Linked DNA regions of Homo sapiens: all the other regions are linked to region 3. The links come from fine-mapping of genetic effects on gene expression. A gene starts in region 3. Each other region holds a variant in brackets. All regions are shown on one strand. Distances are between the middles of the regions.

Evidence for each region. PIP is the estimated chance that this variant, and not a neighbour inherited with it, causes the effect. A credible set is the group of variants that fine-mapping cannot tell apart.
Region 1: its variant is the best candidate, but not a certain one, in a credible set for the expression of DEGS2 in lung (TOPMed, PIP 0.73).
Region 2: its variant is the best candidate, but not a certain one, in a credible set for the expression of DEGS2 in sun-exposed skin (GTEx, PIP 0.59).
Region 4: its variant is the best candidate, but not a certain one, in a credible set for the expression of DEGS2 in whole blood (INTERVAL, PIP 0.56).

The regions. Positions count from the first base shown.
Region 1 is chr14:100,137,114-100,139,793 of GRCh38, reverse strand. EVL (Enah/Vasp-like) reads right to left here. Exons shown (of 14, transcript NM_016337.3): 10 at 2,150-2,216; 11 at 1,992-2,054. Among named protein-coding and RNA genes, the nearest start is that of DEGS2, 21 kb to the left of the region's middle. RefSeq lists enhancers at 30-734, 1,257-1,406, 735-1,440. The variant C/T (reference allele first, on the strand shown) is at 1,155.
Region 2 is chr14:100,125,444-100,128,123 of GRCh38, reverse strand. EVL (Enah/Vasp-like) reads right to left here. Exons shown (of 14, transcript NM_016337.3): 5 at 1,353-1,417. Among named protein-coding and RNA genes, the nearest start is that of MIR342, 17 kb to the right of the region's middle. The variant C/T (reference allele first, on the strand shown) is at 1,502.
Region 3 is chr14:100,158,588-100,161,267 of GRCh38, reverse strand. It overlaps DEGS2 (delta 4-desaturase, sphingolipid 2), which reads left to right and starts at 1,623. Exons shown (of 3, transcript NM_206918.3): 1 at 1,623-1,762. The coding sequence starts at 1,681. It overlaps LOC124903380 (a long non-coding RNA gene), which reads right to left and starts at 1,231. Exons shown (of 2, transcript XR_007064330.1): 1 at 1,137-1,231. RefSeq lists silencers at 1,277-1,676, 1,777-1,836.
Region 4 is chr14:100,037,551-100,040,230 of GRCh38, reverse strand. It overlaps LOC124903379 (a long non-coding RNA gene), which reads left to right. Exons shown (of 2, transcript XR_007064329.1): 2 at 1-2,680. It also overlaps a transcript of EVL not described here. Among named protein-coding and RNA genes, the nearest start is that of EVL, 27 kb to the left of the region's middle. The variant A/G (reference allele first, on the strand shown) is at 1,349.

The DNA of each region.
Region 1 (2,680 bases), 21 kb after region 3:
TGTGCCCCTGGGTGTGATCATGGGCACACACATTTATCTGGCAGGGCCAGCCTTGGCTGCTGAGGGGTCATGGGCACAGAGGAGGACCATCTGGTGACACTGAGGACCAGTGTTGCCCACAGCCAGGGAGAATAAGGATGAAGAATGAGTGTTGCCACACCCCTCCAGATGAGCTCAAGAAAGAGGCCAAGCCTAGCCCTAAACAGGTCTGTAAGTAATTCTGGGTCCTGATAGGCAAACGCATCCAGCCAGAGGGCCCTGGGTCCTTCAGGCCTCTCCTGTGGGTTCCAGACCCTGTTCCAGCAACAATTGCTGGGACACCTGGGCCGACTGCTCCACCTCGCCAGGCCCTGGCCCTCTCCATCTCAGCCCTGACAGCCACCCAGTGATAAACACAGCAGGCTTCCTAAGCAATGTGACGCACCAGAGGGGTGGTGGTACACGTTCCCCTTGAAGTCATCTGAAAATTAGAGAACAGATTTGCCTCAGAGCTGAAGAGAGACCCTATTCCAAGCATGAATGGCCTTGACAATGTTCCTGCCCAGTGAGCGACCCTTGGCCACTCACAACATGGCAGCCCGCCTTTGCTCCACCAGCAGGACGTGGCGGAGTCCGCTGGGAGCGCTGCAGGCTCCCCTTGCTGCCGTGTCTGCTCCAGGGCCCTCGTTTTGCCCACTCTGGTTGCCTTCCCCTTCCCAGCCTCCACCATGGCACCCTGTGCCTCAAGTTCCATGACTGGGCCCTGCGCATGAACACAATGCAAACTTCTAACTCCGCGCTCCCCCACACCCTCTTCCTCACCCTTCCCGTTCCCCTGCCCCATGGCCTGTCTGCTTCCAGGTGGAGGTGCGGGGGAGCTTGGCGGGTGGCTGCAGGCTCAGGGCCCTGGCACTTACCCTTCCTTCAGCTTGGGAGGCTGTCCCCATGATCTCCGCAGAGCAGACTCCTCCTCGTCCGGGTCAACGAAAATGCCAGCTCCCGACAGAGGCTTGCCCCACCCCACTCCGCAAAGCACCCTGTCCCTTCCACCATGTGGCCCTGCACCCTGTCCAGAGCACCCCTCAGGACCACAGTGGCCTTGTTCACACGGTGCTCTTTGCAGGCAGGGACTGTCCCCAGCACACGGCCTGGCTGACCACAAGCCTTGGACAAAC[C/T]CCAGCTGACTGCTAAGACTTCCTCATCTCTGTCCACCTGCACTGCTCTGCTCTCACCACCTGTTCAGCTCTGCAAGGCCAGTTTCAATGCCTCCTGCTCTGTGATAAGGGTGGTTTCCCTTCAATTTGTGGTGGCGATGGAGACATTCTTGACGCAGGTTCTAGAGGCCTTCCAATTCAGGCCACATGTACCTCCAGATACTATGTGGCTGGCTGCCTCTGCCTTTTTGGGCAATCTCAGTTCCAAATATTCTATCATGTTGTCATGCCAGCTTTTGGCTTGGGAAATATGGTCAGTATGTCTGTGGGGAAACTGATTCTGTGTGCCGGCCGCAGAGGAAGGACTCTGGGCTGGAGGAAAGGGGTAGGGCTCAGCGCCAGTGCTAGGACTGGTTGAACTGTAGGGTGCAGCCCTGGCTAGTGACCACACCCCATGTCCAGCTGTTGCTCACAGCTGTCCCCACCACCACCCTGTGCAGCAGGGGTTAACAGACCTCACTTTGTGGGGGGAAAACAGAGGCTTGGAGAGGTCCCCTAACTTGCCCACTGTCACACGTAGTGAGTCCAGAGCTGGGACTCCATGTTGGCCCCCCCCTGCACTACCTCTGTGGACAGGTCACTGCCCTCCTTGCCCTTGGTCTCTCTCTCAGAGGGAAAAGACGGAGCAGCTGACTGACAGGACCCCGAGGTCCTGGGTCTGAAAGAACAGACCACCTTCGCAGAGCAAGTTGTTAAATGCCAGGACGTGAGACAGCGTGCAAGGGTGTTAGTCACGGGACGGGGGACAGAGGAGCCCCAAACCCTGGGGGACATGTGAGCAGGAGGGTTGTTCGGTACCTAGAGTGAGGCTGCGACTGAAGGGGGCTCTTAGCTTCGGGGCTCTTTGCCACAGACGGGGTTCTACGGCAATGGAATGAAACAGACATGTGAATCGGCGCCAGCGCCCGCCTCTGCCCCACCAGCCTCGCTGCTCAGGCCTTCCTGGGGCAGCTCACCTGGACAGAATCGAGGACACAGGCTTCTCCACCGAGTTGCTCCGCTCCCAGGGCTTCCGGCCAGCCTCTGTCAGTTCATTTCATGGATGAAGAACCTCACAGGTGAAGGGACTCAGTAGCCACCCCAATCCCCTAAACACCCCAACAGGAAGCCCTCACCCATGCCAAGGGTGCAGAGCCCCGTGGCAGGAAGGTCTGATTGAGTTAAGCCAAAACCTGGCACCTTGTTCTCAGTCCCCCATGGCCTAGGTCAGGTTGACCCTGACCTGTGATCTGGTTCTGAGCCCTTCACTGTGCCAGGTCTCTCTGGAATGTGAGCCTGCTGGTAAGGGACCCAGTGACTAGAGCCACAGGGCGAGCAAGCACGACCTCCCCGGACATCCCAGCACAGCCTTGCTCCCACGTGTGGTGTGGCGGCCAGGCCCCTCGGCCCGGCACCTGCTACTGAGGGGCTCCTTAGTCTGCCTCCCATGCTGCGCCTGGCTCTGTCCCATTCTGGCTGGCTTGTCTTTTTTAAGTGGTATTGGATTA
Region 2 (2,680 bases), 33 kb after region 3:
AGATCCAACTGTGACTGACACTTGGGTCGTTGGGGGCCGTGGCAGGTCCTGTGGGTCCCAGGGCCGACTGGGGGCATGGGTCAGGGCGCAATGCCGAGTGCTGGGCTCCAGCATCATCCATCCAGCCCCTTCCGCCAGTGCTGCCTAAGCCTGTTTTGTGCCAGGCACTGTGCTAGGTGCTGGGTATGGTGCTGAGGAAAACCAGCCACAAGCTCTCTGCTCAGGGTGCTCACAGCCTATGAGGAACAGTCAACGAATCGCAGAGGTAAACGCAGATGGAGGACTGTGGCAAGCTGACAAGTGTTACCAAGGGCAGGCACACGGCGCCATGTTGGCATACAAAGAGGGGCTCCAGCCTGGCCAGAAGTTCATGGAAGACGGACGTCCTCCATGACGTCCTCACGGAAGTGACTGTGGAGCTGGGACACGACCGGAGAGCAGGGGTTCAGTTAGGTGAAGGGGGGAGGCAAGTGTGAGGAAGGAGGAAAAGGATGGGAAGTGCTTGCGAGGCACTAGAGGGAGAGAGGGCAGGCACAGGCTGTTCCAAGAGTGATGGGGAAGGGACGACATGATGACAGTGTCAGACCTGCATCAGAAATGCAGACTGGCCGGGGAGCAGGAGGCCAGCAGCAGCTAGGTGGGGGTGATGGGGTCAGCCAGCATCTCACGAGCAGAGCGTTCCTGTAACCAGTGGGGGCTCGGGTTTCTCATCAGTCAACAGGATAATAGTCACCTGCTCACTTCATAGGGTGTTTGAGAAAATTAAACAAGACAAAGGACATGAAAGCACTTGGTAAATTATCCAGTCCTTTGCCTATCAGTGAACATGACAATTTCTGGAAAACCCTCGTCCTTCTCCTTTAACGTGCTAAGCTCCACCGAACGTCCAAGACAGACGCGTGGCAGCGCCTCCTGTGGGAAGTCTTCCTGACCCAAGGTAGGCCTTCAGCACCTGCACGTCACTTGCCACAGTGTTCACTACGTGACATGACAAGGGTGGGTTCACTGTCTCCTTGAGTGGACAGCGGGCTTCCTGAGGGCAGGAACTGCATCTGCAGTCATAGTTGTGTCCCCAGCCCTTAGCACGGTGCCTGAGACACAGGAGGTGCTTGCTGAATGTCCACTCCGGAGAAGGTTGGCAGGTAGTGGCCAGACCCAGCTGAGCAGACTCCCCAAGCCTCTGCTCTGCTCTCTTGCTACCCTCACCATCTGAAGTGGTGGTTGCACTTTGAGACCTAGGCTCCCCATAGCTGCTCACAGAGCGCCCCGTGTGTCCCTGGGCCTCATCTACGTGGAGGGGCTGCCACCTGGCAGCAGCATGGGAGTCGGCCCTAGGGGAGGAGGGCTCTCACCTGTGGCCGAGGTTCTTCTTTCTAGAGATTCCTGACGCTGCTGCTGGTGCTGCTCCATCACTTGTCTGGAAAGTAATCACAGCAGGGCAGTCTGACTCCTCCACTCTGGAGACCACCACACTCTGTGCCTGTGCTGTACCCGCCGGCCC[C/T]GGCTTCAGAGTCAGGTTTCGCCAGCGCTCCACAAGCGCCACTGTGTGCCACGGCTGCCTCCACTTAACAGAGGAGGGGGATGTGACTGGGTCCAGCTCCCGCAAGTGGGAGCACCGGCTGTCTCCTGAGTCTCAGGCACACTGAACACAGAGCTCCTTATGGAAGGCCAGTGTGATTCCACTCCCCAGAGTGACCAAGCTCTTCCCTGGGCTAGATGGGCGCACCTGGCTTTTGGGAGCCTGTGGCCTCAACAGACCCAGCCTCAGGAACGCCTGTTCTTAGTGGACCTGGCCAAGCTTCCTGGGACAGTTCTCAGGTGTGTTTTGGTTGCCAGCAGAAATGGACACAAAGGCCACACTCCTCATTTTCTTTACCACTGAGCGGTCATAGGCCCGCCTTCGTCTAGAGGGCCATTTGGTGCACCGTGGCACACTGCTACGTGCACAGCAGTGGGAACTCACATCCCAGTGCCTTATGGCAGGGTGGCCTCAGGGTGCTCTTAAAGGCAAGCTGAGTGAGGACACTGAGGCCCAGATACATCTCCAGAATCCAGGGATCGAGTTCTGGAGTGGGAGGCACTTTAAGAAATCATCCAGGCCACAGACAGCATCAAGAGCTCAGCTCGTGTGGTGCAAACTGAACATGTGCTGTGGAAACACAGGGCTAAGGATTGTTCTGAAGGCAGCTCTGGGCTTGGTGGGAGTGCCAGAAACATCTATTTCATGGGGTTCTTGTAGGGTGTATGCCTTAACTAAAACATTATGGAATGGCTGGGCGTGGTGGCTCACGCCTGTAATCACAGCACTTTGGGAGGGTGAGGCGGGCGGATGACGAGGCCAGGAGTTTGAGACCAGCCTGACCAACATGGTGAAACCCCATCTCTACTAAAAATACAAAAATGAGCTGGGTGTGGTGGCGCGCGCCTGTAATCCCAGCTACTCAAGGGGCTGAGGCAGAAGAATCTCTTGAACCCAGGAAGTGGAGGTTGCAGTTAGCCAAGATTGCGTCACTACACTCCAGCCCGGGTGACAGAGCAAGACTCCATCTCAAAAAAAAAAAAAAATTACGGAAAAGCCCCTTTTAGCATTAAGGTCTGAAAAGCTCCCAGCAGCATCTACATTAGTGTCTCTGCTCAAACTGCTGAAACCTCCCCAGCAGGAGCCACACACCTAGAACAC
Region 3 (2,680 bases):
GGTGGCCTGGGGCAGAGGGAACTGGCAGGCTTGGTGTTGTCCTGAGGGTGGAGCTGGGGCTCAGGGCGGCAGATCTCACGGAGTTCAACACAGGGGCGAAGGCTCTGATTTTGGAAGCTTTTTAATTCAAAGGTCAGGGGCCAAAGTCATGCCCCAGCCTTGCTGTTAATTCCTCTGTGCCTCAGGCAAGGCGCTCCTCATCTCTGGGCCTCAGTCTCCTGATCTGTAAAGTGATGGCTGGTGGGATGACTTCTGAGGACCCTTCTGGCTGGGAACAGAGCAGGCTGCCCTGGGAGCAATGAGTCTTCTCCCAAGGGTGCAAGCTGGGCCGGGAGGCCTCCTGGGTGTGGCAAGGGGTGATGGCCATGGTGGCATGTGGGTCCCCCTGCTGATGGAAAATCTGGCCTCTGTGTCCACCTTTCCCATGGCTAATTCAGGGGATGGTGGCTGGCGGCTGCAGGACACCCATGCCTTCCTTCCTGGCTCACTCAGGACTGCCTTTGGCCCTGAGCTAAGGAAGGCCTGCCAAGTGTACCAAACCCCGGGCCATGGACTTCCATGGGACGCACAGAAGCACGCCCTCACTATGTGCGAGCCTGTGGCAGCGCTGGCTGATGTGTCAGTCAGCTCCCAGGCAACTGCCAGCCGAGGCCAGGCTCTGGCCCACAGGCACAGCAGGTCCACCCTCCAAAACTCCAAGGGAGTGGGAGAAGGAACAGAGGCATCACTGAGAGGGTGAAGATGAGGGGCCCTGTGCCCTTACCTCCCCAAAACTAGACTTTCCATTTGAGAACATTCAGGTTCTGCCTTGTTTCCAAGCGTTTGCATCTGCTGTTCCCCCTAGCACCAATGCCTTTCCCTTTTCTAGCTGTTGAACTCCTACCCACCCCTCAAGGCCCAATGCAAAAGTTCCTTCTATTGGATCCTAGCTGCTTCAGGGCCTACCTGTGTCATGGCACGTATCACCCTGAATCATAACAGCCACTTCTGTACCTGTGTCCCCATCCAGAACTCAAGTTCCCTGAAGGCAGGAGTGGGTCTGACTCATCCCTGTGAGGTTGCTGCAGACGCATTATCTCCCCTTTGCATTATTGGTGAAAGGGCCGGGTGGAGGAAGGGAGGATTGCTGCACCAACCTTTCCTCGGCGCCTGTTTACTGGCACCGTCGCATCCATTCCACGCCGATCCTCCGCAGTCCCCCTATCCTGCCAGCCGCTCCTCCTTGGGGCAGGGGCGGCGCGAGCCACAGGGGCGTGCCCGCGAGCGGGTCGGGGCTGCGGAGAGAACGGGCCGGGGTAAAAACCCGACGGCTGCCCGCGGGTGGGCGGGGCGCGCAGAGCCGGTGGGAGGCCGCGGTGGCAGCAGTCGCCCCCGCGCATCGAGGGACCCAGGGACTCGCGCAGATGGCACGCGGCCACCTCGGTCCTGCCGGGGAGCCCCATTTCCAACCGAGGCAACTGAGGTTCCCAAAGCGCCAGCTACCCGCCGGGGTCTGGAGAGCGCCGGGGCCCGGCCGCCCCGCCCAGCCAGAGGTGCCCCGCCCCAAGCCTGGCGCACCTGGCCCCGCCCCGCCGGGACCCCGCCCCCGCCCTAATCAGAGCTGGTTCCGCGCCGCGGCCGCCGCGACAGGTGCAGCAGAGCCGAGCCGGCCGCGCTCCGAACGGCGCCTCCCGCCCCACCATGGGCAACAGCGCGAGCCGCAGCGACTTCGAGTGGGTCTACACCGACCAGCCGCACACGCAGCGGCGCAAGGAGATACTGGGTGAGCGCCGCGCGGGGCCCACCCCGGTGGGGACCGCCCCGTTGGCCCGTCTGGAGTCGCGTCGTGGGGTCGAGCCCAGACGGGCCGCTCCAGCTCTGGCCCAAATTCCAGTGGGCGTTCCGCCATTGCCGCTCCCCTCCCTGGGGTCCCCGGCCGGCTCCCCGAGGGTCCCCCACCCTGGCCGGGTCTGAAACTCCCTGGGACCTGAGGATTCCGAGGACCCCAGTACGGGTCCGAGCGCCAGGGAGCGCGTCCCAGCTGTTCCTCGCGAGCCACTCCCGGGGCCAGGGCCGGGGCTCTGGGATGCTGGGACGCGAGGGCGCAGGGGCGGCCCCGGGACGCGCTACGAGGCGCACGCGCTCCCTGGCGCGGAGGCAGCTTGCGCGACGCGGGGCCTCCACCCGCAGTCACTGGGCGCCTGCTGCGCTCAGAGCCCCTGGGTCTCGCGGCCACGGGCGCCCCAGGCTGGAGTTCAGGGCGGATGAGCGCCGGGAAGGGAGCAAACGCGAATGAGAGGCGCGCGTGTTTTCTTTGAAAAAAGCAAAGATTGTACTAAAGAATCCTTCTATTCTGGCATGTCGCTTATTACGTGGTGGCTGTTTTCCTTGTTGCTTCGTGTCCTCTGCGAGGAGGGCATCTTTACCCACTCGGAGTCACTCTCGTTCATGCCAGAGGCCCCATCCCACCCACAAGCAAGGTGGCCCCGGTGAGTCGTCCTTGGCCCGGGCTTACGGGGTTAAAGGGCCTGCGTCTGGAGAGTGGCTTTTGCCAGATGCCACCAAATCGCCACAGGCTGAGACAGGCCCGCCCCTCCCGCCCTGCCTAAGTCAGCACCGCGCGTTGCCACACTTTGTAATCTTCAGTCAGATTGGGGAAACAATACCATTTCACTGTGGCTTTAATTTGCACTTATTTGAT
Region 4 (2,680 bases), 120 kb after region 3:
AGCGGAACAAAAGGAGCTGGTAAAAATCTGTAGTAAGGGCAGCAAAGTGCTAGTAACAGGATCACTGTGCATTGAGCCGTTTGCTAAGGCTGTCCAAGTGCCACAAGCAAACACAAAGGGACAGAAGCCACAAAGATCAACAGCTCATGGGGGCTGGGCACAGTGGCTCATGCCTGTAGGCCCAGCACTTTGAGAAGTCAAGGCAGGAGGATCCCTTGAGCCCGGGAGTTTGAGATCAGCCTGGGCAACACAGCAAGACTCCATCTCTGCAAAAAAGTTAAAAAATTAGCCCAGTGTGGTGGTGTGCACTTGTGGTCCCAGCCTCTCAGGAGGCTGAGGTGAGAGGATCACTTGAACCCAGGAGGTCGTGACACCCATGATCGCGTCACTGCATTCCAACCTCGGTAACAGAGCGAGACCCTGTCTCTATTAAAAACAAAAAGCAGCTCATGGGGTCAGCCACACCACCCAGACACACAAGCCAGAGAGAACAGAGTGGGTGAAGATATAGACCAATTCCAGGCTAGGAAACTACTTACCATCCCCTACTGTACAGAGAACTTCACTGTTGTTGTTTATTTAGAAATTTCTTAAATGTGGTTTATTCAACACTTCAGTAACTCTAGTTATTTTACCCATATTATGTGTCCAAATTATTCATGTGACTTAAAGTTTTGCTTTAAAAGCTTCTAACAACTGGGTGCAGTGGCTCACGCCTGTAATCCCAGCACTTTGGGAGGCTGAGGTGGGTGGATCACTTGAGATCAGGACTTTGAGACCAGCCTGACCGACATGGCAAAACCCTGTCTCTACCAAAAATACAAAAATTAGCCAGGTGTGGTGGTGCATGCTTGTAATCCCAGCTACTTGGGAGGCTGAGGCAGGAGAATCACTTGAATCTGGGAGGCGGAAGTTGCAGTGAGCCAAAATTGTGCCACTGCACTCCAGCATGGGGAACAAGAGTGCAACTCCGTCTCAAATAAATAAATAAATGGCCTCTAACAAGGATTGTTTTAACTAGAAAATAACTGAACTTCATAAAGTGAGAAAAGCTGAAATCATGGGGTATTCATATGAGGAATCCTATTTTTAAAATATTTGTCTCCCACAGGGTCTCTGTCCCCAAGGTTTAACTTTGAAAAGCTCAAATGTTCTTACCTGTCCTTTTTCCCTTCAGTTCTTATACTTATTTGGTGACTTGGTTAATGACTCTATTTTCTGAAATCTGAGAAGCCAGTCCTGGGCCCTATGGGTCATGGCTGCAGAAGGAAACACAGTCCCCACTCTTGAGGAATTCATCTGCTTTTGGGAGAGGCAGGATATATTCAAGAGAACTAAAAAAGTTGGA[A/G]AAGTAACCAATAACCCAAACTGTATCCCTAGTTTCTGATCTTTGTGAGTACAAAGTTATATTCTTTCTTTACAGCAACACACACACACACACACACACACACACACACACCCCAGGGCACAGCACACAGGGTACTAAGTGGTACCTAAGACCATCTCTGACAGCTACCCACCCAAGCTGTGGCCTCTGCCAAGAGTTGAGGGATATCAGTGAAGTTCTAGCATTATTCTGTTTAAGCTTTTTATTATGAGCAGTTAATAATTTTTCAATTAATAAAACTAGCTTATTAAAAATAAAGAAGTTTAATGGCACAAAGGGACAAGTGAAATGCAAATGGGACCCAGACTTGTTCCGCTTGTTAAGACAGTATCCTGATTTGGGACTAAGAGCCCTGGCTGTCCAGACCACGTGGGCTTCAAAACCGAGAGGAGGCAGTGGTGGGCAACCTTGTCCGCCATCTGAGTCCATCGCTTCTGCTCTTTGATATGGCAAGTCAGAATTAAATATTCTGAAGGCCCAACAGAGCTGGGAAGTTTGTCCAGACAAGAGCATGATAAGATCAGTTTGTTTAAAACCTGCTGTGGATTTATTTGCTTTGTCCATGCTTAGCAATTCTGTCCACTTGCCACAACTTCTTCAGATTTTAATTTCCTTCTTTTCCTCTTAATTCTATAGACATGGCCAACGTGGTGCTTTATTAAATCTACAGAGCTGGTTGCCAGGCACTTCCTTCTGCTGCCTGCAGCTCTCCGTCTACAGTATCCTACCCAGGATGATTTCAGCTTTCCTTAGTCTACACTTTCCCCTCACTGAAAAGCAGCAGAATGGGAATCCACAGAGCTAGTTCCAGTCCTGTTGCTAACTAACCTGGTGATCACAACCAAGCTCTGACCCTGTCTAGGTGTGTTTCCTCCTCTGTAATTTCTAACTTGCTGAAAGTGGTGTTAATGAAATGACATATTGTTAATACAGTTCTCGGCCCTCAATAGTTGAATAAATAAATGGAAGCTATCCCATTTGTATCCCTAATGTCTAGCTCTGAATGAATGAAAGAAAATAACTATATATTGCCTGGGACATAGTGGCTGTTTCGGAAATATTACTTCTCTTTCCCTTACCCACTGGAAATACCTCAAGGGAACTGGCCATGTCTGCTCTGGGGAAGCGAAAGGTAAATACCATGTCCAAAAGAGGGACTCACAGAGATCTGAACAAGGGGATACCTAAGGAACTTTTTTGGTTCTAATATTCTATATTTTATTTGTACATTTAGCAAACACTGCTGAAGACTTGAAACACATGCTGGACACCAGCCAAGCCTGGAATTAATGT